Linked DNA regions of Homo sapiens. The protein of the gene in region 4 purifies or fractionates together with the protein of the main gene of each other region. This does not show direct contact. Each region holds a gene or a part of one and is shown on either strand. Other genes may lie near its edges. The genes, in order: BORA, YTHDC1, MEIOC and NXF2.

Region 1 (4,807 bases), on a different chromosome or scaffold from region 4:
ATAAGTAGTAATGGAAGGCAAGGTCCTTTGAATGGTAACAAACAAGGGGGACTGAGAATGATGAGGGAAGGGCTAAAGTGCTGGGCCCAGATGTCAAGGAATGTTATCACAGGGCACAACTGTTGCCAATTGAAAGTTTTAAAAGACAATGACATCTGATTTATGTGGTAGAAAAATAAATTTAGTAACAAAGTGCATGTTAAATGACTGACATAGAGACACCATTTAAAGGCACCATGACCCAACTGGAATATAAAGTTTGCAATTAGAACCAAGTTTGAATTAGAGTTCTTTTATTTCCAGGCTGTGGGATCTTAAGGCAAGATTTACATAGCAGTGAATAGAACATGACTTTTTAATTTTTGTCCCCTCATCCTTCTTAGCTATAAAGTGAGATTGATGCCTGCCTTGATGCCTGTGGGGGATAACAAGGTATCTGTTGCCTGGTTGGTACATATTAGGCATTGACATTAGCAGAAGTCTAGATGAGAGACAGTGAAGTCAGCCACCATCTCAACTTGGCTCTCATCAATCCTGCTCTTCCCATAGTGTGGGACAAACTCCCCGCATGCCTTACTTCCTGCTGTACTAATGAGTAACTCTTCCCTCCATATATATCCAGTTACATATTAGTATTGCATTATAAGCCAGCTATTTGGCAGTGATGAATATTAGAAGGAAGAGCTATTGGCAGAATCTCTGGGAGCAATCTGACATTTATATTTTTGATCAAGTAGCTATTGAATGATAGCAGAACAAGGCTTTTCCCCAAAAATGTTACACATCACAAGGCTTTTGTTCTAATTGGAACATGACCTCTAGTAGTAAGCAGATATGTATCCAGCCTTGAAATCTGGGAACATTTTTTCAGGATTATTAAGTGATAAAGAGTGCCGTTTCTAGGCTAGTCTGTACCTTTGTGAGGGAAACAAAATGACAGTCAGCTTTTTCCTTCCCTCTGATCCTAACTTGCAGGGAGGGCTTAAATGCAAAATGATTCCCTTGTGGATTGCTTTCTTTGGTGCTCAGCATTATACAGGTAAATGGAGCGTTGTGCAGTGAACAGAACCTGGACTTAGGTCTCACATCTTCATCACCTCATCACTGGATGACATTGTGAAAGTTAAGCTTTTTAAGCCTTAATTTCCTTCTCTAGTAAAGTATTAGGGTTGTTGAAAGGAGAAAAAAATATTAAATATATAGAGATAGTGCCTGGCCTTTTTAGACACTCAATAAATGTTTCCAAGCTGGAAGTTCGCTAGAATCTTTCTTTTTTGCTCTTTTGCACTGAAACAGTGTATCTTAGGATGCTACAATTTTTATTAACATGAAAAGCTGAACTAACATCTAGAGCCATTATATATGTGGCATTATTGTGAACAACTAGGTGTAAATATAATATAATCCACTTTTTTAAAGGCAGCATGCCTCAAGCCATTTAGAGACAAGCCTGGAAAATGCGTTGGAAGGTGAAGTTAGTTGTAATACTCATTTTTGTCTACTAGGTACGATCACAAAATAACAGGAAAGCATTGTGTCAGTAGGCTGTTCACTGATTCTTAAGGAAGTTACAAGATATATTTCATTGGAAGGAATTGTAAAATGACTACAATAATCAGTACTATGCAGGACTACCTTTTATATTTGTGCATTACTTTTGAATTTTGTTCAACATGATCAATATTACATGTTAGGATCATTCAGATGTAGTGAATGAGAGTTTATAGTGGTTTACTTATTTAAATATTTGACTTTTAAGTTCCTCACAATATATTTTTTTCTTTTTTCTCCTGTCAGATGGATAGTGGCTATAATACGCAGAATTGTGGAAGCAATATTATGGATACAGTTGGGGCAGAAAGTTACTGCAAAGAAAGTGATGCACAAACATGTGAAGTTGAGAGTAAATCTCAAGCATTTAATATGAAGGTACGGAGAAAATATAGTGAAAGCTTAATATTGTTTAGATTAGAAATATAAAATAATTTTGATTATTAGACAATAGTACTATTGAGAAACTATATGAAATTTAAAACACTAAAAGGTAAGCCTGTTTTCTTAACATCCAATAACCTTTAAATATTTTGGTTACTCTGAATACACAAGTATCTTACATACTACAAAGTGTGCAAAGGTAGCGTGTATTTGATGAGGGCATTTACTGAACCTTCCAGGTGGTGGTTATATATTCATACTTGAAGAAACTCATCATAATTTCAGGCACTAGTCAGGACAGTCTTTAATTTTATGTGCCAATTTTTTTTGCATTTTATTTTTTTGTAGAGACAGGGCCTGCTGTGTTGCCCAGGCTGGTCTCAAACTCCTGGTGTCAAGCAGTCTTTCTGCCTCAGCCTCGCAAAGTGCTGCGCGATTACAGGCATGAGCCAACATGCCCAGCCTTGTATGCCGTTTCTTTTTTTTCTTTTTTTTTTTTTTTGAGACAGGGTCTTACTCTGTCACCCGGGCTGGAGTGCAGTCGTAGAATCAGATCACTACAGCCTTTAACTGCTGGGCTCAAGCAATCCTCCTGCCTCACCCTCCTGAGTAGCTAGAACTACAGGTGTGAACCACCTTGCCCTGCTGTTATATGCCAGTTTCTTATAAAATACTATAAATATCAGCAAATGTGCAACAAATGTTTAATAGGGAGGCCACCTTAGTTTTCCTTTCTGTTGTATGTAGTAGGAGCAAACTGCCTTTCTGTTGTATGTAGTATCAGAGCAGGTCTCTTCTAATATTAACCTGAACAAAATCCATCCTATTTCAGGATGCAGTTGTCTATCTAAACATAAGTAGAGATAAATGAAGGATTTTTTTAAATTTTATTATTTTATTTTTTTTGAGACAAGGTCTCATTCTGTCACCCAGGCTAGAGTGTAGTGGCACGACCACAGCTCACTGTAGCCTTCACCTCCCAGACTCAAGCAGTCTTACCACCTCAGCCTCCTGAGTAGCTAGGGCTACAGGCATGTGCCACCACACCCAGCTTTTTAAAATTTTTGGTAGAGACAGGGTCTCACTATGTTGCCAGGGCTAGTCCCAAACTCCTGGGCTCGTGCGATCCTCCCACCTTGGCCTCTCAAAGTGTTGGGATGCTTTTTGATGCAGAATATTGATTTATAAAATACTGTATCTTTACTGTCCCTTCAGAGTTCAGCTAAAGAAACGTGCTTTTAGGTTTTAAAAACAGTCCCGATAATTGCATCCTCCAGTGGTCCTACTTAAACTGAAAACAAGGTATTGTCTTCTTTTTCACAGCAAGACCACACAACACAGAGGTGTTGGATGAAAACAGCAAGCCCTTTTCAATGCAGCAGTCCATAGAATGCCTCTGTCAGAATCAAAGACTAAGCTTAAGAGTTCCTCGCATATATCGTTGTGCACAGGATCAACATGATGGTGACTGGGAAAAAATTACTTCAAGTAACATGCTTAGCTTTCCCTCCTTAATGTGAAAAATCAAGGGCTTACTGACATAGGAACAACAGAAATGCTCCTGGAACTTCAAGTTGCTGAATTATAAGTTTATTTTTTATCAATAAATATTTTTATACTTACATTGAGTGATGTGTTTAACAACAAATTGTGACAGAGCTGAGTGCTCCTATCTTACAGGGTCAATGAACTACTTATTAAGCCTTACTGGTAGCACTGAATTTAGCAGTTCTGAGAACATGTGAAACTATGTTAAAACTGAAGGCACTATATATTTTTACATAAAAGCTTGAACATACAGATGAATTATAACCTATGTGAAGAAATCTTAGATATAAAACTAACTTTTCAAAGATACAAAAGAAATTAAACAGGTTTCCTGAAATTTTAGTTCTTGGTCTGTTCACCTCTGTGGGGAAAATTCTTAGTTCCAGTGATAACTGTTCTAGTTACTACTTTTAAGTATGTAAATACTAGAAAGGTAGTACTAGTGACATCATCACGTGTATTGTTATCTATGGGGCAAATGTGTGGTGCCCAGAATAAAATATACCTCATGCCTAGGGTAGGGACATCCTTTCCAGCTCAAACGTGGGTAGGGATGTGGGAGAATAAGAATGTGGGAGAACCAAGAGAAAAAGTGGGGCTGGGAGAGTGGAGTTCCCGTAGGGCATAGGCCTGTGAAGTAACACTGGGGCAGATATGTATGTTATATACAACTATTTTTTTAAAAAACTTATATCCATGTTGGGAGTAGATGGGTATATAACAGTTTGGAAATACTATCTTTGGAGAATGTATTTTTGTATTTATAAATCAACTTTTAAAAACTGTCTCATTCAAAAGGGAATAAAGACCTGTGTTATCAATGTGTCATTTTCTTCTTTCCTCCATAACTGTACCTTGAAACCTTACTGCTGACCTGCAGAAAATGTGCCGCGTTATGTACCTGGCTCATCTTCAACACACTAACCATGAACACTAATAGCCATTAGGGGACATGGCTACAGATACTACATTGGAAAGTTGTCTTTAATCACACAGGTGTTAAACTCAATATAAATTTACCTAAAAACAATTGCTATACCTAAAAGGAGTTCTGGGTACTAAGGGTAGAAGCCTCACTGGCTACAGTTTTTTAATAGTACAAAAGTCAAGAAATAACACAATAGTGACTATAACCTGTATTCAAATCCCTACTCTGTCACTACTTGATCTGGGCTGATATGGTATGGCTCTGTGTCCTCACCCAAATCTAACCTTGAATTGTAGCAATCCCCACGTGTCAAGGGTGGGACCAGGTGGAGGTAACTGGATCATGGGGGCGGTTTCCTCCATGCTGTTCCTGTGATAGTGAGCCGGTCTCATGAGA
Region 2 (7,033 bases), on a different chromosome or scaffold from region 4:
AAAACAGTTATAGGAAAGGCATAAATGAAAACCTACAGCCACCAAAATATAAGAAGGTTATAAATTAATGGGATTATCACTGTTATTTAAATATCAGCAATTAAATACCCACGATCCAAGTAGAAGTAAAAGCATAGGCCAAGCTAAATGTATCATTTGGGGTTGAGATTCTTTGGTGGCACTGGTTCCAACTAGATTCAAGAGACATCTGTTCACTGTTTCAACACAGTTAATCTCAGCCAGAACATCACAGAAAACTGTGAAGCCTGAGGCAAAACAGGGCTCAGAATAAATTAAGAAAAATTGCAGGGTCTGTGATCCATGTAGCATCCTTATTTTATCCTTTCTTCTCAGATCACAATCATAGAACAAGCAACCTAACAGTTACCTTCTGAGCAGCTATGTTATGAAGCATACAGATACAACTTATCTTTACTGTGAGTTCTTTGAGAACATGTAAGGGACTCTCTGACCTAAGTGGTTCTGCAAATAGGGCAAATTTAACAAAGAATGTAAAACTGTGCACAGTTTTTTGTTTTGAGACACAGTCTCACTCTGTTACCCAGACTGGAGTGCAGCTGCATGATCTCGGCTTGCTGCAACCTCCGCCTCCTGAGTTCAAGGGATTCTCATGCCTCAGCCTCCCATGTAGCTGGGACTACAGGCATGCGCCACCACATCTGGCTAATTTTTGCATTTTTAGTAGAGACGGGGTTTCACCATGTTGGCCATGCTAGTCTCGAACTCCTGGCCTCAAGTGATGCACCCACCTCAGCCTCCCAAAGTGCTGGGATTACAGGCATGAACCACTGCGCCCAGCCATGCAGAGGCTCTTATATGCTGGACAGTGGTTTGTTGATTAAAGTTAAAAAGAAAAATGGAGGCCGGGCGCAGTGGCTCATGCCTGTAGTAATCCCAGCACTTTGGGAGGCTGAGGCGGGCGGATCACCTGAGGTCGGGAGTTCGAGACCAGCCTAACCAACATGGAGAAACCCCGTCTCTACTAAAAATAAAAAATTAGCCGGGCGTGGTGGCACATGCCTGTAATCCCAGCTACTAGGGAGGCTGAGGCAGAAGAATCGCTTGAACCCGGGAGGCGGAAGTTGTGGTGAGCCGAGATTGCGCCATTGCACTCTAGCCTGGGCAACAAGAGCGAAACTCCGTCTCAAAAGAAAAGAAAAGAAAAATGGAGAGACTCTAAATGAAAACAGAAATGGGTTGTTTGGAATGGACATGAAAGGAATATAACACCTAGTCAGTAAATGTAACTCTGGATGAATAGTATTTCATAGATCATGCCTTATTTTGAGCTAATTACAGGTGGCAACCTTAATAAGTCGCTTTTTATGCCTCCCTCTCTTTATCAGCTAAAACATGACACTTATCTGGTCCCAATCTTCCATGTGCCTACCAACTACCTGAACCATCAAGAATTTAACAGGTTTGAGGTGGGTTTCAAGATTCTGCATTTTAACAGTCAGATGCTACTGATGTAAGTGATCCAGGGATCACACCTAAAAAAGCTTAAGTCTAGTTATTATTATATCCAAAGGGTCCTTAAATATAAATCTAATAATTATTATATCTGCAAAAGAAAAAAATATTAACAGCAGTTACTGTTGATAGCAAAGTCCTGACCATTTCTATTTATTAAATTTAAATGTTCTGAGACTCAAATGTAATTCTCACTATATAGAGAGAATTTAAACTCAAGAGAGTTCAAGTGACTTATCTAAGGAAATATCAATGTTAGAAATATCACAAGCCCTCCAGAACTGTAAAGTATTGTAAAATTACACTTGAATAGAACTTGAGTATTAAAACATTAAAACTATAGTTTTATTATGTAAAAATACTATTTCTAGGTAAACCCATAAACTTACTTTAAAATAATAAAAGCACTTTACTGCCCACAATTTTACACCTCACGTTAGTAGGATAGACAAATTGAGTCTGTCTACCTCTTCGGTTGCTTGATACATTTCAAACAAATTAGTAGAATAGTCAATAAGTCAATGAAGAGGAATATGAAGAATGAATAATCCATGAAAAATTAAATTCATCTTAAAATTAAGAATTTCCTTATCAGTAATGTAAAAATGAAGGTTAACAGAACAAATAACATTTGAAACAAAATCTGCTGCAACCCACATAAAAATGGGCAATTATTTTCTCTCCTGTTCCCAAGAAAGCAACACCTGCAAATATGTTACATTACAACGTTTCCTCTGGCCTTTACAGAGCAGTCACATACACACACAAAATAAAAATAATCACTCCCTTTCCTACAAATTGTCACCAGATTTTCAACTTTAATTATAACTTAATTATAATTTTGATTTCAAAAAAACCAAGTTTATATTTTAAAACCCCTGGGGGCAACAGAGAGGAAGTGGGAGAAAGCACTAACAGTCTCACCACCTAACACTGCATTCCAATACCATAATTATGTATTTTTTCATTTGTTATACCTTTCCATGTTGATATGTGCACAATTACTTCCACATATATTTAAGAGACAAACTATAATTTAACTAATTTTCTATTTCAAAGAATTTAGATGATTTCCAACTCTTTCCCACAGAAAGTAATAATGGGATGAGTATTTTTTCTGCACATAGCTTTTTGCTACGCTATTATCAACCTAATACAGTTATGTGTCACTTAATGACAGGGATACACTCATTAGGTGATTTCATTGTGTGAACATCACAGAATGCACTTACACAAACCTAAATGGTATAGCCTACTACATACCTAGGATATATGGTATGACCTGTTTCTCCTAGCCTACAAATCTGCACAGCATGTTACTGTATTGAATAGTGTAGGTAAATGTAACACAATGGAAAATACTTGTGTATCTAAACATAGAAAAGGTATAGTAAAATATGGTATTATAGGTACCTCTTACGAGTCCTACAGTCTTATGGGACAAGATTCTTTGTTGATGGGTATGTCACTACACAGTAAGTGACTGTATGCTATTTGTAATATATCACTCCCTCTATCTTCACAGCTCCTCACTATCCTACAATAAACATTTAGGCTGACTCACATTCATTCATTCTTATCCATCTTTGCCCTCTGTTCTTCTCTTTTCCTAACCATCTCCTTCATAAAAAAAGGTAGCTCCCTATCCCACTCACACATCCATATGCCCTCCCACTGCTCCCCACAACCCTGCAACCCCATAGTTTGTTTCCATGCTCTTCTTGGCTTAGGCTGATTTCCATCATATGCATAGCATTTTTCTTCTTTTTCATCCGACCCCTTCAGGCTCATCAAGATCTAATACCCAAAAACAACTTAAAACTCACAAAGTAACCATCTCCTTTCAGACACTTTTTAACTAAAATTAATTTTACAGGTAATACATTTGTGTATGCCACGTAAAGATCACTTAAATAATGAGCTTCTTGTGTACAATACTTCAGTGTGCAGTAAGGACCTAAAAATAGTGACAACTCAGTGTTCAAAATAAGCCTGATTATTTTTCTAATAAATACAGTTAAATCTTAACTCAGTTTCAGAAGATCACAATGGCAACTAAACATCATTTGCTAACCTCCTTAAAAAATACTGTCCACGACTAAACTAGTTACCTCCGAAATTGTTAGCCAAGTCATAGTACTTATTTCCCATTCCTCAATAACTTAAGTGACATGTTAAATCACTAAAATTATACAGATACGCCAGACAACATTTCAAGCAACTGTCCAATTCATTTACTGCTTTATTACTAATATACAAAACAAATCAAATACATGTAACTTTAGACTAAATACGCCTTTGTTGTGTCCCACATTAGATAAAGGTAGTTACTGAACAAGGTAAGATAAGTATACAGTGACTTTTTCACTTTAACACATTATTCTAAACTGGTAGTGTATTCAAAATTTCAGTTATCTATACTGAAGTGTATAATTTACCTGCAAATCCAGTCAATTTTAAAGACACCTCCCAGCATTTTAGCACTCATTCCTGCTGGAAGCACCCAGTGTATAGGAGATCCTCCGTGATGTGATTCTGAAGAAAGTCTTGCAAACCCTAAGAGAATCATATCATAATATAATATGTAGATGCTAATATAATTAATGTTTTTATATGTCCAAATTATTTTTATTCTTACCTTGAAATTTTCCACTCTCTCTGACAGAAAATATTAAGATAACACTCCTTGCAGATCTAAATGCAAGATTTAATTTCTTCTCATTTACAGGGAGCGTGGACCATACACCCTACATAAATAACATAAAGACCACAAAGTGAAATTAACTACAACTCTTTTGTGTTTCCAGTTATGTTTGAAAAAAAACTACATATTTTGGTGTGCTTTCAATTTAAGTAAGCTATAATGAAGAAAGGTTTTATTTATCAGCTGTCAGAATAACGTAGTAATAATTTATAAAAACCTAAGGGAAAAAATGGAGACAATTACCAATTTTACAAAACCATTAAAGCAAGTAGTAAATAGATGGAGATGAGGTTCAAATCTAAGGGACTAGAATTCTATATAGTAAAACCAATCACTACAATTATTTTAATATTACAACCATTTACTGTGGTAAATACATCCTGTTTGAAGGTGAATCGCCACTTAGAAGTTAGTCTTCTTGCAAAACCGTACCTGATCAAATAATTTAAAATTACTCTATTAGTCAAGAATCTAGCATTTTTCTATTTAAGTTCGTTTTTTAAAGCAGTTTTTAAGTTCAAATTTTTATGTATCAATAGTTTGACTGAAGAGGCCTACGTTTTACCTACAGCTGGAAGATATTTGTTAATTTCTAAAGCATTTTAACCAATTCTTCATTCATAACAGATAAAAAGAAATGGAATAATAAGGCAGATGCTATCATTCAGCTCACACCATCTGCTCATACAAATGACATCTCATTCAAACTAAGTGCTTACAGTTGTTCCTCAGTCTCCACTGGGGACTGGTTCCAGGACCCATGCAGATACCAAAATCTGAGGATGCTCAAGTCCCTTATATAAAATGGCACAGTATTTGCGTATAACCCATGCATATACTCCCATATACTTTAAATCACCTCTAGAATACTTATACCTAATACAATGTAAATGCTATGTGAATAGTTGTTATACTGTGTTTAAGTTTGTATTTTCTGTTTTATTATTTCTCATTCCTTTTTCCCCTAATATTTCAATCCAGTTAGTTAAATCGAAAGATGAGGAACCCTGTGGATACCGAGGGCCAAGTGTACTTCTGCCTAAATCCACTTAAGCTAGAGAACAGAATAAGGCTATTTGGTGTACTGTTTCCTTCTGTTTGTAAAGTTTTAGGGGTAGTCCTTAAGGTAGAAATATAGAATACTGACAGAAATATCATTAGAGAAATGTCTAACTTTAGTTTTAAGTTTCTGAAAATCAGTTGAAACTGTAGTTACTCAGTTTAAACCAAGAATAGCAAAACACTGTAACAGCTAGTGTAACACAAAAATGTATTTTTGTAGCCAAACATAAAAAGAAAATTATTATCTTACAACATCCTACAGCAACTATGCATATCTTTTTTGCAAAGTCTGGAGTGGATCTTTAAGCTAATTCTTTTTCTTCTAAATCCCAATGATCTTAATTCTAAAAAATAAAACTCTCCATAAAAGAATGATTTCAAAAGAACCTCAAAGTGTAAATCAAGCATCAACATAAAACAAAAATTGGTTAACTACAGGTACTTTTAGAAGTGTTAGCACAATAAATGAGCCACTGAGGAAGTACAGAAACAAAAATCAACAGAAACAGGATCTTTTACAGCAAAAAGTTAAACTGTATAGCCTTCAACATTTAATATTCTGACCCCTAAAATCATCTTAAAAAAAAAAAAAGAAAACTCAAATTACAAGTAGGCTGACTGACTACAACCAGATCCTAAGTGGCCATTGGAATGTAGATCTTTAAAGCCGTAATGAAAATCATAATACCTATGCTACTTGATATAATACAAGTCTATTTTCCCATTTAAAAATTTTGATATTAGGATAGTTTCAACAGAACTGATGCTAATACCTTCGCTTTGGCAAGAGACACATTCTCATGGTTGTTACTCTTTATGAGGAAAAATCTTGCATCTTGAAGCACATATTTGAGTTTACTGGTTTGATCTGAAAAAAAAAGAAACCCAAATCGATTAACCACAAGCCATTATCACACAAAGGGGTCAAAACTGTACTAACTGAAATTAGCCCTCCACAACCCAGCTAAACTTTTAAAACGCAACAATCACCCATTCAACCTGGAAGGCTAAGCCACATGTAATAAAGCAAAGCTAAGAAAAGACAATCAGCATATTGCAAGAAAGTAAACCTAACCTAGTGATGTTCCGATATATCAAATCCATATTTAAGTATGAAAATGGTTACCAAGTTTTATAGATTTTCTTACTCAGATTCAAGAATAACAGACCATTATATACATACATATATATACACACACATCTATATATAACACATACACACATACACACACACACCCATCCCATTTTGTCCAAAAACTAAAATATCCTGAAATGTTTGGTATTATTCTAAAAAATATGCAGTAAGAAGCAGACACAGAGCTTTCTATGTTAAGATATTATTTTTTGCTTCATGTAATATATCGGAACATTACTACATTAAAAGCAGCTATTAATGGAGAACCAATAAGGAAAAATAATGACTATGCAGCATGCAATGAAAACAATTTCAAATTTAAATGATACCTTTTCGGACAGCACGAACGGAAGATGATAATTTCTCATGCTTCTTTTCTGAACCTGTATTTAGCCAAAGTACATTTGTTCAGATTGAGCTTTAATAGAGATAAGACAAAATTTCTACAGTCTTGTCACATAAAATTCTCATTCAAGACAAATTATTCTTCCTGGCGCACCCACACACACAAAAAAAACTTCTCAATGTGTACGAGTGTTTTGCTTTTTGGGTTGTTTGGATTTTTTTAAAAGTATGTATATTTGAACAGTTTCCCACTCAGAAAACTAGTCACTGAATCATCATCTTCCAAGAAAAAA
Region 3 (7,038 bases), on a different chromosome or scaffold from region 4:
AGCCTGGGTAACATGGAAAAACCCTGTCTCTACTAAAAATACAAAAATTTAGCCAGGCGTGGTTGTGCGTGCCTGTAATCCCAGCTACTCGGGAGGCTGAGGCATGAAAATCCCTTGAACCTGGGAGGCAGAGGTTACAATGAACCAAGATCGTGCCACTCTACTCCAGGCTGGGTGACAGAGGGAGACTCTGTCTCAAAAAAAAAAAAAGAAAGAAAGAAAGAAAAAGAAAAAGAAAATAACAAGTGTTGGTGAGGATGTGGAGAAATGGGAACTCTCATGCATTGTTGGTGAGAATGTAAAATGGTGCAGCCACAGTGTAAAACATTTTGGAATTACTCAAGACATCGAATACAATTACCATATGTCCCAACAATACCACTCTTAGGTATATACCCAAAATAATTGGAAAAAAAATTAATCAAATACTTGTACACCAATGTTTCTAGCAGTACTACGCACAATAGTGAAAAGTTGAGAGCCAAGCGCGGTGACTCATGCCTGTAATCACTTTGAGAGGTCAAGGCAGGCAGATCACTTGAGGTCAAGAGGTCGAGAACACCCTGGCCAACATGGTGAGATCCCATTTCTATTAAAAATACAAAAATTAGGCGGGGCACGGTGGCTCAAACCTGTAATCCCAGCACTGTGGGAGGCTGAGGCAGGCGGATCACCAGAGGTCAGGAGTTCGAGGCCAGCCTGTCCAACATGGCAAAACCCTGTCTCTACTAAAAATACAAAAATCAGCCAGGCATGGTGATTCATGCCTGTAATCCCAGCTACTCAGGAGGCTGAGACAGGAGAATCACTTGAACCCAGGAGGCAGAGGTTGCAGTGAGCTGAGATCATGCCACTGCACTCCAACCTGGGTGACAGAGCAAGACTCTGTCTCAAAAAAAAAAAAAAATTAGCCAGGTTTGGTGGCACATGCCTGTAATCCCAGCTCCTGGGGAAGCTGAGGCAGGAGAATCATCTGAACGATTCCTCCGATAAGGGGGAGGTTGCAGTGAGCCAAGATTGCGCCTGCACTCCAGCCTGCAGCACAGAGCAAGACTCTGACTCAAAAAAAAAAAAAAAAGGTGGAAACCACCCATGTGTCCATAAACAGATGAATGCTTGAACAAAATGTGGTATATCCATACAATGGAACCTTAGTCAGCCATAAAAAGGAATGACATTCAGGTATATGCTATAACATGAAGGAACCTTGATGACAAGGTTTATTTTACCTTAGTAAAATAAGCCAGGCACAAAAGGATAAATATTGTATGATTCCACTTATATATGGTACCTAGAGTAGTCAAATTCATAGAGATAGAAAGTAGAATGGTGGTTGCCAGAACTGGGAGAAGGGGGCATGGGGAATAATTATTTATGGGATGCTGCAGAGTTTCTGTTTGTGATTAATGAAGTTCTGAAACTGTAGAGCGGTCATGGTTACACAACATTATGAATGTGCTTAATGCCACTTAACCAAACACTTAAAAACGACAAATCTTATGTATATTTTACTATAAAAATACATAAGGGGATTCATAGCTTTTCAAAATGCTTCTAGGGAGTATAGGAGAGGGGGAAAAAGCCAGTAGTCCTCAATGCAATGAGCCCTACACCAGCAACTTTAAGGCTGAGGCAGAGAAATGTAACTGTTAGAGCCACACCACCTGGTCAGCTTTTTTTAAGTGTGTGTGCGTGTGTGTGTGTTTGTGTGTGTGTGTGTGTGTGTGCATGCACATTTTGTTTTTCCTTTTTGTGGAGCACTATATTCCCCAGGCAAATCTCAAACTCCTGGGCTCAATCTATCCTCCTGCCTTTGCTTCCCTAAATGCTGGGATTACAGGTGTGAGTCCAGCAGCTTTTTTTCTTTTCTTTCTTCCTTTTTTTTTTTTTTTTTTTTTGAAACAGGGTCTTGCTCTGTTGCCCAGGCTGGAGTGTGATGGAGTGATTATGGCTCACTGCATCCTCCAACTCTCCAGCTCAGGCGATCCTCCCATCTCAGCCTCCCAAGTGCAGGTACCTGGGACTACAGGCACACACCACCACACCCAACTAATTGTTAATTTTTTTGTAGAGACGAAGTCTCCTTATGTTGCCCTGGCTGGGCAACTCCTGGGCTCAAGCAATCCTCCTGCCTCGGCCTCCCAAAGTGCTGGGATTACAGGCACAAGCCACTGCGCCCAGCCTTGGTGAGCTTTCTGAACTCAAAGCTGAGTAGAGACCTGAAGTAACTATCAGGACAATATGGGTCAATAAAACTCATCCTCCTACTTCCATTCGTGTCTGAGTTAAAACAGTATCTTCCACTTAAGTGCTCATTTCTCAAGTTTTGATTTTAAATATAAAAACAGCCTAAAGGTGCTTACTGTGTTTACTTCTTTTATATTTCAACTATCTGATTTTTTAGCAGTGTCTAGGGACAAAAACTAGCATTTCTCTGAGACCATCACATCCCCAATCTGACTGCTATGTGAATGGTTTGTTGGGTGCCTGGAATGGCTTGTTTATGTAAGCTCTCACCTGTAATCCCACACTTTGGGAGGCCGAGGCGGAGGATCACTTCAGGCCAAGAGTTCAGTTCAAGACCAGCCTGAGCAACATAAGGAGATCCAACCCCCTACCCCCATCCCCACCTCCAACCCCAGCTCTACAAAAAAATTAAAAAATTAGCTAGGGCCAGGCGCCGTGGCTCACGCCTGTAATCCCAGAATTTTGGGAGGCCGAGGCGGGCGGATCACGAGGTCAAGAGATCGAGACCATCCTGGACAACATGGTGAAATTCCCGTCTCTACTAAAAATACAAAAATTAGCGGGGCGTGGTGGCGTGGGCCTGTAGTCCTAGCTACTCGGGAGGCTGAGGCGGGAGAATCGCTTGAACCCGGGAGGCGGAGGTTGCAGTGAGCCTTTGCGCCACCGCACTCTAGCCTGGCGACAGTGAGACTCCATCTCACCAAAAAAAAAAAAAAAAAAAAAATTAGCTGGGAGTGGTGGCACGCGCCTGTAGCCCCAACTACTCGGGAGGCTGAGGCGGGAGGATCGCTCGAGACCAGGAGTTTGAGACCAGCCTGGGCAACATAAGGAGACCCAACCCCCCCGCCCTTCAGCTTTACAAAAAAATTAAAAAATTAGCCAGGAGTGGTGGCGCCGCGTGCCTGCAGCCCCAGCTACTCGGGAGGCTGAGGCGGGAGGGTCGCTTGAACCCGGGAGTTCAAGGCTGCAACGAGCTATGATAGCGCCACTGCACTCCAGCCTGGGCGACAGAGCAAGACCCTGTTTTACACAGACAAACAAAAACGAACAAAAAGGTCACAGCGAACTTTGTTCAAAAGTCACATTAACACTTAAATGCCTTAACCCGGACTGAAAGCCCGGGCTTAGGACACAGGGCAGCTCTCCCTCAAAAAGGGGTCTCCCAGCAACACCCAATCCACAAGTTGCTCCTCGCCCTCCCCAAACCGGTACAAGATATATCAGTCTCTGGGCAGCTCCAACGGATTCTGAAGCTACGGGAGGGACTAAGGAACAAATATGAAATGTCGGACAAATGAAATGTGCGCAACAGCTAGGTTTTGGAGGATAAGCCAGTTGCTGAGCGACTTCTCAAATCTTCCAAGTGCCTCCAACACCTCTCCCACCCGGTAGGGCTGCGCTCTTTAGCTCTTTCAACCTTCCACGACCGGCCTCTCCGCTGCCCTATCAGCAAATCATCGGGCCGGTGCCTGCCAGTCCGGGCCAATCCCGAACACATTTACTTTGAGCGGGAAAAGCTCAGAAGCGGCGAGAGAGCGTGGTCCGCTAACCGCCCCTTCCTCTCCTTGTCTCTGGGGGGTAACGGAGCCTGGAGTGGTCGCCCATTGGATGGGCATCGGACCAATGGCGGGCTGCGAAACGGGAGGGGCGGGCCTCACAGCGGGGCGGGGCGCGCCTGTGCCGTGTCGCGTGCCGAGCCGCGAGCCCCAGGCAGGCCAGGTAACGGCCTCTGCCCCCGCCCCTCCCTCCCCGCTCGGACTTCCCTTACCCGCACACTGGCTCCAGGCAGCGCCCGGGCGGCGGAGGCGGCTGCGGAGACGGCGGGGTGCGGGCTGAGGGAGCCGGGCCTGGACGCCCCCCCCATCACCCCCGTACCCCAGGAGCTGTGCCTAGTCCAGGAGAGGCTGGGGGGCGCCCCATGGAGGTGAGACGCGGAGACACCTGCCCGCGCCCTCACCCCTCAGGCCTGAGGGAGGAAGGACTTGAGGTAATGGATGAGGAAGGGCAGGGTCCAGGGGGCGGCCAGACTTGCAAGAGGCGACGAGGAGGAGAGGCTGAGGAGGGGGCGCGTCCCTAGACGGGGCGGCAGAGGCGGGTCGTCGGTGGGGAGGCCGAACGGGGCGGGCGGGCGGGGGGCGCGGCGCGGGCTGACTGGACGGGCCGGACGGAGCGCGGGTCGCCGCGATTCCCGGGAGGCAGCCGTCGCGCTGAGGCGGTGGCCGGGGAGGGGCGCCCCTCGGGGTCAGCACTCAGGGGGCCCGAGGGGAGAGTGAGAATCCCGAGGCTGGAAGCGCGGGCCCCCACATTCGTGTCCTCTGAGAGGGTTCGGAATTGAGCCGAACAGCCGAGGTAGAACAGGTGTCGGGCCGTTTCAGCTCCGGCGTCACCCTCGTGACCACTTTCTGATATTTCCTATTCCCGTGTGCTGCAGCCCAAAGTCGCGTTCCCCGGAGGTGCGAATCGCTGTTGGAACCTCGGCGCCGACGCCGGCAGCAGGTTAACCGACGTCTTCGGCAGCGTGATGTTGACTGGCTCCGCTTCCTTCTACGATTGCTACACATCGCAGGTCCTTTAGTAAACTCTGCCTCTGTTAGACGATTTATTCTCAAATGGATTTACTCGAGCCACCGATTCATAGGTGTTTAATGGCTCCACAGTTAAGGAAGAGAAAACCAGGGAAAACTTTTTTTTTTTTTTTTTTTTTTTGAGACAGAGTCTTGCTCTGTCTCCTAGGCTGGAGTGCAGTGGCGCCATCTCGGCTCACTGCAACCTCCGCCAGCCGGGCTCAGGCGATTCTTGTGCCTCAGCTTCCTGAGGCACGCGCCACCACGCCCGGCTGTTTTTTTTGTTTGTTTTGTTTTTGTTTTTTGTTTTTGAGATGGAGTTTTGCTCTTGTTGCCCAGGCTGGAGTGCAGTGGTGCGATCTCGGCTCACCTCAACCTCTGCCTCCGGGGCTCAAGTTATTCTCCTGCCTCAGCCTCCGGAGTAGCTGGGATTACAGGCATGCGCCACCACGCCTGGCTAATTTTGTATTTTTAGTAGAGACAGGGTTTCTCCATGTTGGTCAGGCTGGTCTCGAACTCCCAACCTCGGGTGATCCGCGCACCTCGGCCTCCCAAAGTGCTGGGATTACAGGCATGAGCCACCGCGTCCAGCCGTTTTGTTTTGTTTTTTGAGACGGAGTCTCCTTCTGTTGCCCAGGCTGGAGTGCAGTGGTGCGATCTCGGATCACTGCAACCTCTGTCTCCCTGGTTCAAGCAGTTCTTCCGTCTCAGCCTCCCCAGTAGCTGGGATTACAGGCACCTGCCATCATGCCCGGCTAATTTTTGTATTGTTTTTAGAGACCGGGTTTCACCATGTTCCCCAGGCTGGTCTCGAACTTCTGGGCTCCAGCCATCCTCCCGCCTCGGCCTCCCAAAGTGCTAGGATTTCAGGCCACAGCGCCCAGCCCAGGAACAATTTTTTTTTTTTTTTTTTGAGACGGAGTCTTGCTCTGTCGCCCAGGCTGGAGTGCAGTGACGCAATCTCCGCTCACTGCAAGCTCCACCTCCCAGGTTCACGCCATTCTCCTGCCTCAGCCTCCCGAGTAGCTGGGACTACAGGCACCCGCCACCACGCCCGGCTAATTTTTTTGTATTTTTAGTAGATACGGGGTTTCACTGTGTTAGCCAGTATGGTCTCGATCTCCTGACCTCGTGATCCGCTCGCCTCAGCCTCCCAAAGTGCTGGGATTACAGGCGTGAGCCACCGCGCCCGGCTACAATCTTTTAAATACAGTGTTTGCAGAATACATACTTTGCTTTGAAAATAAGTTAAGGGCCGGGCGCCATGGCTCGTGCCTGTAATCCCAGCACTCTGGGGGGCTGAGGCGGGTGGATCACCTGAGTTCGGGAGTTCAAGACCAGCCTGGCCAACATGGCGAAACCCCATCTCTACTAAAAATACAAAAATCAGCCGGGTGTGGGGGCAGGCACCTGTAATCCCAGCTACTTGGGAGACTGAGGCAGGAGAATCTTAAACCAGGGAGGTGGAGGTTGCAGTGAGCCAAGATCATGCCACTGCACTCCAGCCTGGGTGACAGAGTGAGACTCCCTCTCAAAAAAAAAAAAAAAAGAAAAAAGAAAACAAATTGAAGAATAAGATTTTTCATTGATTCGTTTCCATCTTGTCCTTAGCATAACATAATTCCAGAAATGTAAGAAAATCCATTATTTAGTAAGATTAAAATATGTTTTTTTTCGTTCAGGCATTTATTGCAAGTTGGTACAAACATATTTTTGATAATTTAAAGGTGAAAATTTCACTTTACTCCTTTATTTTCTGGTTTTAACAATGTCTTAAATTATATGCTACCACTTACCTCACCAAGACATTTAGATTTATTAATCAAAGGAAATAAAGCTTGGGTAATGTAAGTAATTTTCATTTGAAATTATTTAACCAGGACATCAATGTTGATATTGTTGTACTTTGAATTATAACAATATCTAGAAATAAATTATTTTATTTAATCCACACTAAGAATCTTGTATATTATTATGCCACTGTACAGATTGAGAAACTGAGCCTCAGAGAGCTTGATTTGTGCCCTAAATGACAAAGCTCAAGTGGAACCCAGACCATAGTTCCACTGCTCTCTGCAGTGTTTACATCCGGACTAAAATTTATTTGGATTTAATTTCAGTTCACTGTTTTAAGTATGTTAAGGATATAAGTGATACATTTTAAAGTTAATCCAGTTAATATGCCCACTCAAATATTTGCATATTTCCTGGCCTCTGTTAACGAAAG
Region 4 (7,033 bases):
GCTGACGCCTTGACCGAGGAATGCTACCCATCTCGGGCTACCCAGGGCTCCTCTGAGGGCCCAGGCAGGACGATGTGAGGTGGAGAAGGAGGGAAGGTGGGGCAGTGCCCTGAGAGGCCTGTCCTTCTGTCTTCTCAACCTCCTCTGCCCTCTGCCTTCCACTCCTGCCTCAGGAACGTGGCCCGCTTCTGGCCCCTTGACGTAGGAAACCCAGGTTTCTCCCCAAGGAGGGCCCAGCTCCTGGCATTGGGCCAGAGGAAGAGATGGCATGACAGCAGCCACCCGGGGCCCCAGCCCTCAGTATGGGGCAGGGAAGCCCCCATGCCAGCCCAGGACAGGTGGGGGGACCTTTTTGGAGCAAGAGAAGGAGAACCCCTCTTGGGACAGGGGAGGGAAGCCCCATCGCAGCATGGAGGCAGGAAGGCCTGTCTCAGCATGAAGCCCCGGACTAAAGGACTCTTCTCGGTCCAGGGCACCAGCATCTGAATACTGCTGGTCCTGGGGAGGTGGGGGAGCCCCACTTCCTGGAGCACACTCACAGAGGGCACACTGGAGGAGGCTTGGTGGAGACAGGCGGGAAACACACCCCAGAGCAGGTGAAAAGGGGACCATGTCAGAGGAAGGAAAGGAGACCTCTAAGCACAGATGAGTGAGTGACAGAGAGAGAGGAGAGAGAGAGAGAGAGAGAGAGAGTAGGAAGGGAGGTCTGTGGTCCTCCCAGAGGACCAAGGCTGCTTCTTCCTGCAGAAGGGCACCTTCAGACACAGCTCAGTCACCCAGGGAGCAAAGGTGCCCAGGAAGGGTGACCGGGGTTGCCACTGACCTTACATAGGCGGACTGGTCCGAGAAGGTGCTGCACAACGGGTTCCCTTCTAGCCATAGCTCTTCGAGCTTCAGCCCTTTCACCTTGCCCAACTCCCACGCCGACTCCAGCTAAGAAAGATGGGGAGGAAACTGGAGAAGGAGGGCCAGGGAAAGAGAGACACCCAGGACCCTGGGCCCTGAATTCCCCCGGCCCTCATAGTCACCCACAGGTGCCACTGCCTGGCTGTTGCCATTATCCTGATGTGTCCTGCCCTCCACCCAAAGTTGATCTGGCTCCCCCTTCTCACCTTATTTTTGGAGAGATTCAGGGTCTTGACTTTGGGAGCCTTCTCTGTAATGTCAGAAAGGCCATCCAGCTGGTACAGCTTGTTGTTGCACAAGTTCAAAGACAACAGCTTTGGGTCAAGAAGAGTTAGAGTGGCGGCTACTATCTTGGGCCTCAGAGACAAATCTGCCCTCCACCTTATCCCTTCCACCCCTCTAACTAAATACCAGCACTGAGCCTAAGGCTTCACCTCAGGGAAATTTCTTTCAATGATCTTCAGGGTGGCAGCCATGCAGTTTCTTCGATTCAGGATTATATCAATGTCACGGCCCATCAAGTCTTGAAGAAGCCAAGAGAAGGGAATCGGAAGGCTGGGAGGGCCCTGGCTGGACCAGAGCCAGCCCCAACCCCTCTGTAAATTGCCATTCCTAAGTCTCCCTCCCAGGCAGACCTCTCTGCCCCCGCTTGTCTTAGAATTGCTGCTGTCAGCCTTACCTGGGTCAAAGCGGAGATTCTGGAGATCAAGAGCTTGCTGGGAGACATTGTACCGTTTGTTCATGGTCAGCTGCAGAGATAGAGATGAAGACAGAGGCTCTGGGGCTCTGGTGATGGTGGTGGTGGTGGTGGTGATGGTGGTGGTGGTGGTGGTGGTGGTGGTGGTGGTGGTGGTGGTGACAGGGAAAGAGGGGGCCAGGGGAAGAAGAGGTGGGTCCAGGAAGCAGGCATACAATGATCCTTGAGTCTGTATTACCTTTAGCATCTCCATTTGGCCTGGCTTCAACTTATTCTTCACAGAGTAGGGCGCAGTAGAATGATTGACAAATATACATATCTGCAGGAAGGCAGGGTGGTAAGTACCAGGACCTCTAATCCCAAAGAGGATGACCAGCCCCCTGGCCTGTCCTCCTGCCCAGAGACTAAGTACAGGGCATGCCCTCGGCACACACCTTTTGGTTCTCATCATCATAAATCTTATAACTGACATCCTTCAATGCGGAGGCAGCGCTAGCATCCTGGACAAAGAAGCATGCCCGATTTCGGACGTAGTGGAACTACAGGGAGTGAAGGCAAGAGCAACAGCGTCAGAGGCCAATGGCCCCTGCTGAGCCAGGCCTCTCCCCGTCCCCCATGCCCACTCATCTGGCTTCACCATCCTCTCTTACATCAACCGGAGTGAAGCGGTCACTGCAATGGCTCTGGATTGAATTCATTAGCCATGCCTTGTCATACTTTATCCCGTAAGGAATCTAAGGGTAAAAAGAAGAAATAGGAGGGAAGGGAGAGACAACGTGGAACTAAGGATGGAGAACAGAACCAACCAGCTGGGTTTTTTTTTTCTTTCTTTCCAACCTTCTACTTAGCTTAGATTTCTAAAGAAAGGACCGCTGACATGATTTCTTATTTTTGTGCCAAATATAGATGCCCTAAACTCCCTTTCCCCCCATTCCGAAGCTCTCCTCCAAATAATCAACTTAGGGTGTTTTAAGTGGTCTTCCTTCTATCAGGTTCCAGAATAGTCCACCTAATGCAGACCCCACCAAGATACTCACTGTGACCTTAAACCAGTTCCTTGTGTATCCATCCTGTGTGTTCTGACTCATTTTTCTCTCCGGAGGTTTTCTATTTCTCCACGTGGTAATACGGATTTCGTCTTCACTATGCCATTTCATTCTTCTTTCGCATCGGATGCTATAAGGAGTGCTGTGGGGAAGAGGAGAGAAGGCGGGTATCCATTAAATCTAAGAAAGTCTCCTATACATGCTCCACTCACTGACGCCAGGGCTACAATTAGGACTGCTCAGCCACTATTCCACTTCCAGCATTCGTCAGTTCTCTAATGAGAGAAGAAAAGGAAGACCACAGAGAATGAAAGGGTTGCACAGTCCCGGGGGCTGCTACGTGCAAACCAGGCTGCCTGGTCACTTACTGTCTTAGTTGTTGGTCCTTGTGGACATCCCTCATCTCCACGCTTCCATCATTCTCCTGGCAGTGTGAAGGCGGGCGCTCATACCCACCATGTTCATAATGACAGCTCCTCTTGTCAAAATTATCCCGGAAAGAACTCCCACCTTTCTTTCTTCCTTGAAAAGTGCTACCATGGTCATGGCATTCTGCAACTGAGAACAAAAAGACAAGTTTGAGACACATCAATGGTCCACTTACCACGTACCACGTCGTGAGCTAACTCCATGGTAGGGCTAGCAAAGTGCCAACCCGCCACATAAGCCCCAGAAAACAAACTCCTCTGCCTGTCCAGATACAAGAGCCTTATCTCACAGGTGGCACAATCAGGGTAGGAATCTTGGGAGAGGAAGCAACTGTGTTGAACCTCCTGAGAAATGGAGCAGGAATTATAAAGAACAGAGGTGCGCGTGTCCATGGGTTAGACTAGACACCAGCCACACACCTGGAAGGGGTCCTAATCTTGCCTTCTCTCAGGCTTCTCTAATCTAACAACCACACCAACACCTGGGAGACAAGCTCTCTCGCACCTCCCAAATCCAATCCCCAAATGCATTCTGTGAACAATCAGCAAGCTATACCTCTTTGCCAGTGCAGTACGAGCTTTAATGACAGGTGGGTCCGATGTAACAGCTTCCCAAGCTGCCCTCCTGCCTCCAGCCTTGCCCTCAAAAATACTCAGTTTGAAATACCCAGAGCAAGCTTTCTTTTTGCCCAGCCCGAAATGCTTTCAGCCCAAGAGACAACTCTTCCTAAGCAAGTGACAGAATTACTGGAAAGAAAATCAGCAGATACTGAAAACCACTACAGTAACAGGATCTAAATGACATAAATAAAACACCGTACCCAACACACTGTACCCAACAACAAAAACAGAGCATGTATGTTTTTTCCCCCTCTACTGTCTTGCAGCATTCACGAAGGTAGACCATCTCCTGGACCATCAAACAGACCTCGACCAATTTCAAAATGTACACCTTGTCTCAGGGCACTCTTATGAATAAAATTTCGGTCACTGCTGACCTCTCTGCAATATACTGATTATGGCCAGGCCTCAGATGAACTTCTGTAGGGGGCATCATTGCTTTCACTGTGTGTGACCCGCTGTCAGGACAGTCCTGCTCCTCTCGATTGCTGGGACTTTCCCTGTGTGCCATTAGAAGTGAAATTAAATGTGGGCAGAGCATCTGACCTAGACATTCCTGATGCTTGGTCCCTACAACTTGGAAGTGGGGCTGGAGTGCTCTCTTTCTCTCACACTCTACATCCAACCGATCAGGATGGATGTATCTTCTCTTGGCTCTACCTTTAAAATATATCCAGAGTCTGGCCACTTCTCACCCCCTCCATTGCTACCTACCCTGGCCAGGTCACCAACATCTGTCTCCTGGATTATGCTGCCTTCCAAGTTGTCCTGCTTTTGCCCTTGACTCCCCTACCATCTATTTTCAACACAGGAGGCAGAGTGATTTTTTAAGGCATAAGTCAAATCTTGTCATTCCTTTACTCAAAATCCTTTAACCGCGGTTTGGAGCCCATCAGTATGTTAAAAAGTTATGAGTCCATAACAATACTCAACAACAGCAACAACAACAACAAAGACCCCTATTGGTGACATTTGGAGGATGTCCAGAAACCAACTCATTTTCATGAAAGTCCATAAATGAAAGGGAAAAAAATCAAAGATTAAAGTGAGGGTTAAGGGCACACGGTCAATATATGGAGCACAGGAAGAGTCAGAGTCATTTTTGAGAACACACATTACTTCAGAAATAACGTCACTGAGGGGAAGAAGGTGTAAAAGTGTAAGCTAGCCAACAGCTACAGCTACAGCCTCAGGCAAGGCCTTGTGTTGGAAGAGAGCACATGTGATAAAAAGCCACAGAGGGACCGGACAGAGAGAGATGCCGAAGACACAACACACACAGGCGTACATCCACTTGCTGAACTCTGGCATCTCAGCACAATCCCTGTCTCGCAGTTGTGCTGCCAGAATTACGGGCGATCTCAAGAGTATTATAAAGCAGCTAGTACTTCTCACCCAGACCGCCTGGGTTTCCCCTCAAGTCCCACCATGTACTGGCTGATCCCCCCACACAGACATAGTGGTGAGTAACCTTTATGACATCACGTGTGTTCCTACTGGTACTTCCTGTGTTAGTTTGGAATTCTGCCTACATCACTGCCATGCCACTGAGTGCATGGCATCAGCATCCCTGCTACGGCAGGGAAAGAACGGGATAAGAAGAAAACCAACCCTTGCCCAGTGGCAACCAACATCTGCTCAGTGTTGGGCAGACTCACTAGGTTTCTCTTGACCTCCTCACAGAAATCCCATGAGAATTTTATCCACAGTCCCTTTTCAGATCATGAATATTGGGTTCACAGATGTCGGGTACATTTCCCAGCCAGGTAAGTGGCAGAACAGGAATTATGTCCTCACGTATATTGGTCTGCCTCTATACCCTGAGTGCTCCTCCAGAGACTGCACTGGTTCTCCCTTAAATGGCAAGCTTTCAGGTCTCATCGACAGATTTTTTTGTAAGCAGGCCGGGATGATGTTTTGTGCTAGTCACTCCTGTTGGGGTGGGAACCAGGTGTCTTGGATAAGGTGGAGATCTCTGTCTTGGACCAGATGGGTGTAATCTGTTTGGGCCATGGGTTTTCAGATTAGGAGTCACTTTGGGCTGGTAGTGTCTGGCATAGAATAAGGGCCTAATTAATATTTGTTAAATGAATGCATTTGATGTAGGTTTGGGATCATCGACAAAACCACTTTTGAGAATACATCCATCTGAACCATTTCTACCGACCTCTATTTATATTTATTCCAGAGCTATTCGGGCTGCAGAACTATTTCATAACCTGACTGCAAAACTAGAACAAATTAATCTTTTCTTCTGCAACATTAATATTTTTTCATTAATGTATCCTTAGAAATAGAACTGAGTACCTCCCTGCAGACTGTGGCTAGAACTGCAGCTTTGAAGATCTCAGAGAAGGAGGCTTTTGCAAATAGTGCTGACAGAAATGAGGAGAGGCGTTCCCTGAATCCAGCAGATAGGGCTTTCTGGACATCTGGTCTCTGTAGGAAGAATGTTCTGGACCTACAGGCATGTTGTGTTCACTCAGCCTTGTGACAGACAGGAAGCATCATCCCTGTCTCAGAGAAAGGGAAGAATGTGTGGTCTGTGTGTCCGTGTTGCCCATGCGAGCAAGTATTAGTGTTTCGTATTACATGCTTCCACAATTAGGTTACAGATACATGTACTCCAAATCATGTTGGTAAACACATTGCCACACAACACTGGATCCCACTGCACATTTCTTTTCATGTGTTATGTATTATATATGGCCAAATTTTGTTTCTTGTTCAGAATATGCTTTTTAGTGCTTTTTTTCTTTTCTACCTCTCGGTGTTTTAATATTTGAACTGATAGTTTTAAAATAAGAAAGTAGGAGAGTTCCCTGTACACAAAAGTAATGGAACAATACCCACAGGTTGACCAGGGTTACAGAGTACCCCCAGCAGGGGTGGCCAAAAAACCCAGTGGAACACAGCCAGGGCTTCGAAGTGGGTTTAAGATTTTGAGTCCCTGCTCTACAGTTTCCCAGGAGAAGCACATGAGTACTTTTAAGCATAAAGTGATATTTTCGTAAGGATTTTCAATGATATTTACACCAATATACACTTCCACTAACCGTGTGTGAGTCTAATTTTCTGCAATATGCCTAACCATTCAGAAGTCATTCTTACACTTTGATCCAGACGTTTCACTTTTCGAATTTATTACATATATCACTCTCTGTCTAAATATATACATATAATTATACGGCTGTGCTTTACAGGTCCTTTGGGACAGAAGGATGACGGGACCAGAGAGTGGCTGATATTGTCAAAGGGAGAAGTAGAAATGACTGCCCTTGCAATGAAGTAGACATGGCAAGGAAGGGGCATGAGTACCTGACATACAGGGTGAA

The links.
Region 1: the proteins of NXF2 (region 4) and BORA purify together in Homo sapiens (affinity purification with mass spectrometry, with the first as the bait; 2 studies listed by BioGRID). This does not show direct contact.
Region 2: the proteins of NXF2 (region 4) and YTHDC1 purify together in Homo sapiens (affinity purification with mass spectrometry, with the first as the bait; 2 studies listed by BioGRID). This does not show direct contact.
Region 3: the proteins of NXF2 (region 4) and MEIOC purify together in Homo sapiens (affinity purification with mass spectrometry, with the first as the bait; 2 studies listed by BioGRID). This does not show direct contact.

The regions. Positions count from the first base shown.
Region 1 is NC_000013.11:72,751,893-72,756,699, forward strand, and holds the end of BORA (protein aurora borealis), read left to right. Parts: intron 1-276; exon of another isoform or gene 277-1,797; coding exon 1,798-1,929; exon of another isoform or gene 1,930-3,258; coding exon 3,259-3,324; 3' UTR 3,325-4,304; downstream 4,305-4,807. UniProt on the Homo sapiens protein: Required for the activation of AURKA at the onset of mitosis.
Region 2 is NC_000004.12:68,326,070-68,333,102, forward strand, and holds part of YTHDC1 (YTH domain-containing protein 1), read right to left. Parts: intron 6,779-7,033; coding exon 6,725-6,778; intron 6,129-6,724; coding exon 6,034-6,128; intron 4,242-6,033; coding exon 4,133-4,241; intron 4,051-4,132; coding exon 3,933-4,050; intron 1-3,932. UniProt on the Homo sapiens protein: Regulator of alternative splicing that specifically recognizes and binds N6-methyladenosine (m6A)-containing RNAs.
Region 3 is NC_000017.11:44,652,449-44,659,486, forward strand, and holds the start of MEIOC (meiosis-specific coiled-coil domain-containing protein MEIOC), read left to right. Parts: upstream 1-4,019; 5' UTR 4,020-4,165; coding exon 4,166-4,234; intron 4,235-4,678; coding exon 4,679-4,813; intron 4,814-7,038. UniProt on the Homo sapiens protein: Is required for meiosis completion in both male and female germ cells. Confers stability to numerous meiotic mRNAs in gonads allowing proper initiation and progression into meiosis prophase I.
Region 4 is NC_000023.11:102,313,137-102,320,169, reverse strand, and holds part of NXF2 (nuclear RNA export factor 2), read right to left. Parts: intron 3,208-7,033; coding exon 3,018-3,207; intron 2,792-3,017; coding exon 2,641-2,791; intron 2,338-2,640; coding exon 2,254-2,337; intron 2,143-2,253; coding exon 2,038-2,142; intron 1,923-2,037; coding exon 1,842-1,922; intron 1,656-1,841; coding exon 1,586-1,655; intron 1,430-1,585; coding exon 1,341-1,429; intron 1,221-1,340; coding exon 1,113-1,220; intron 934-1,112; coding exon 824-933; intron 1-823. UniProt on the Homo sapiens protein: Involved in the export of mRNA from the nucleus to the cytoplasm.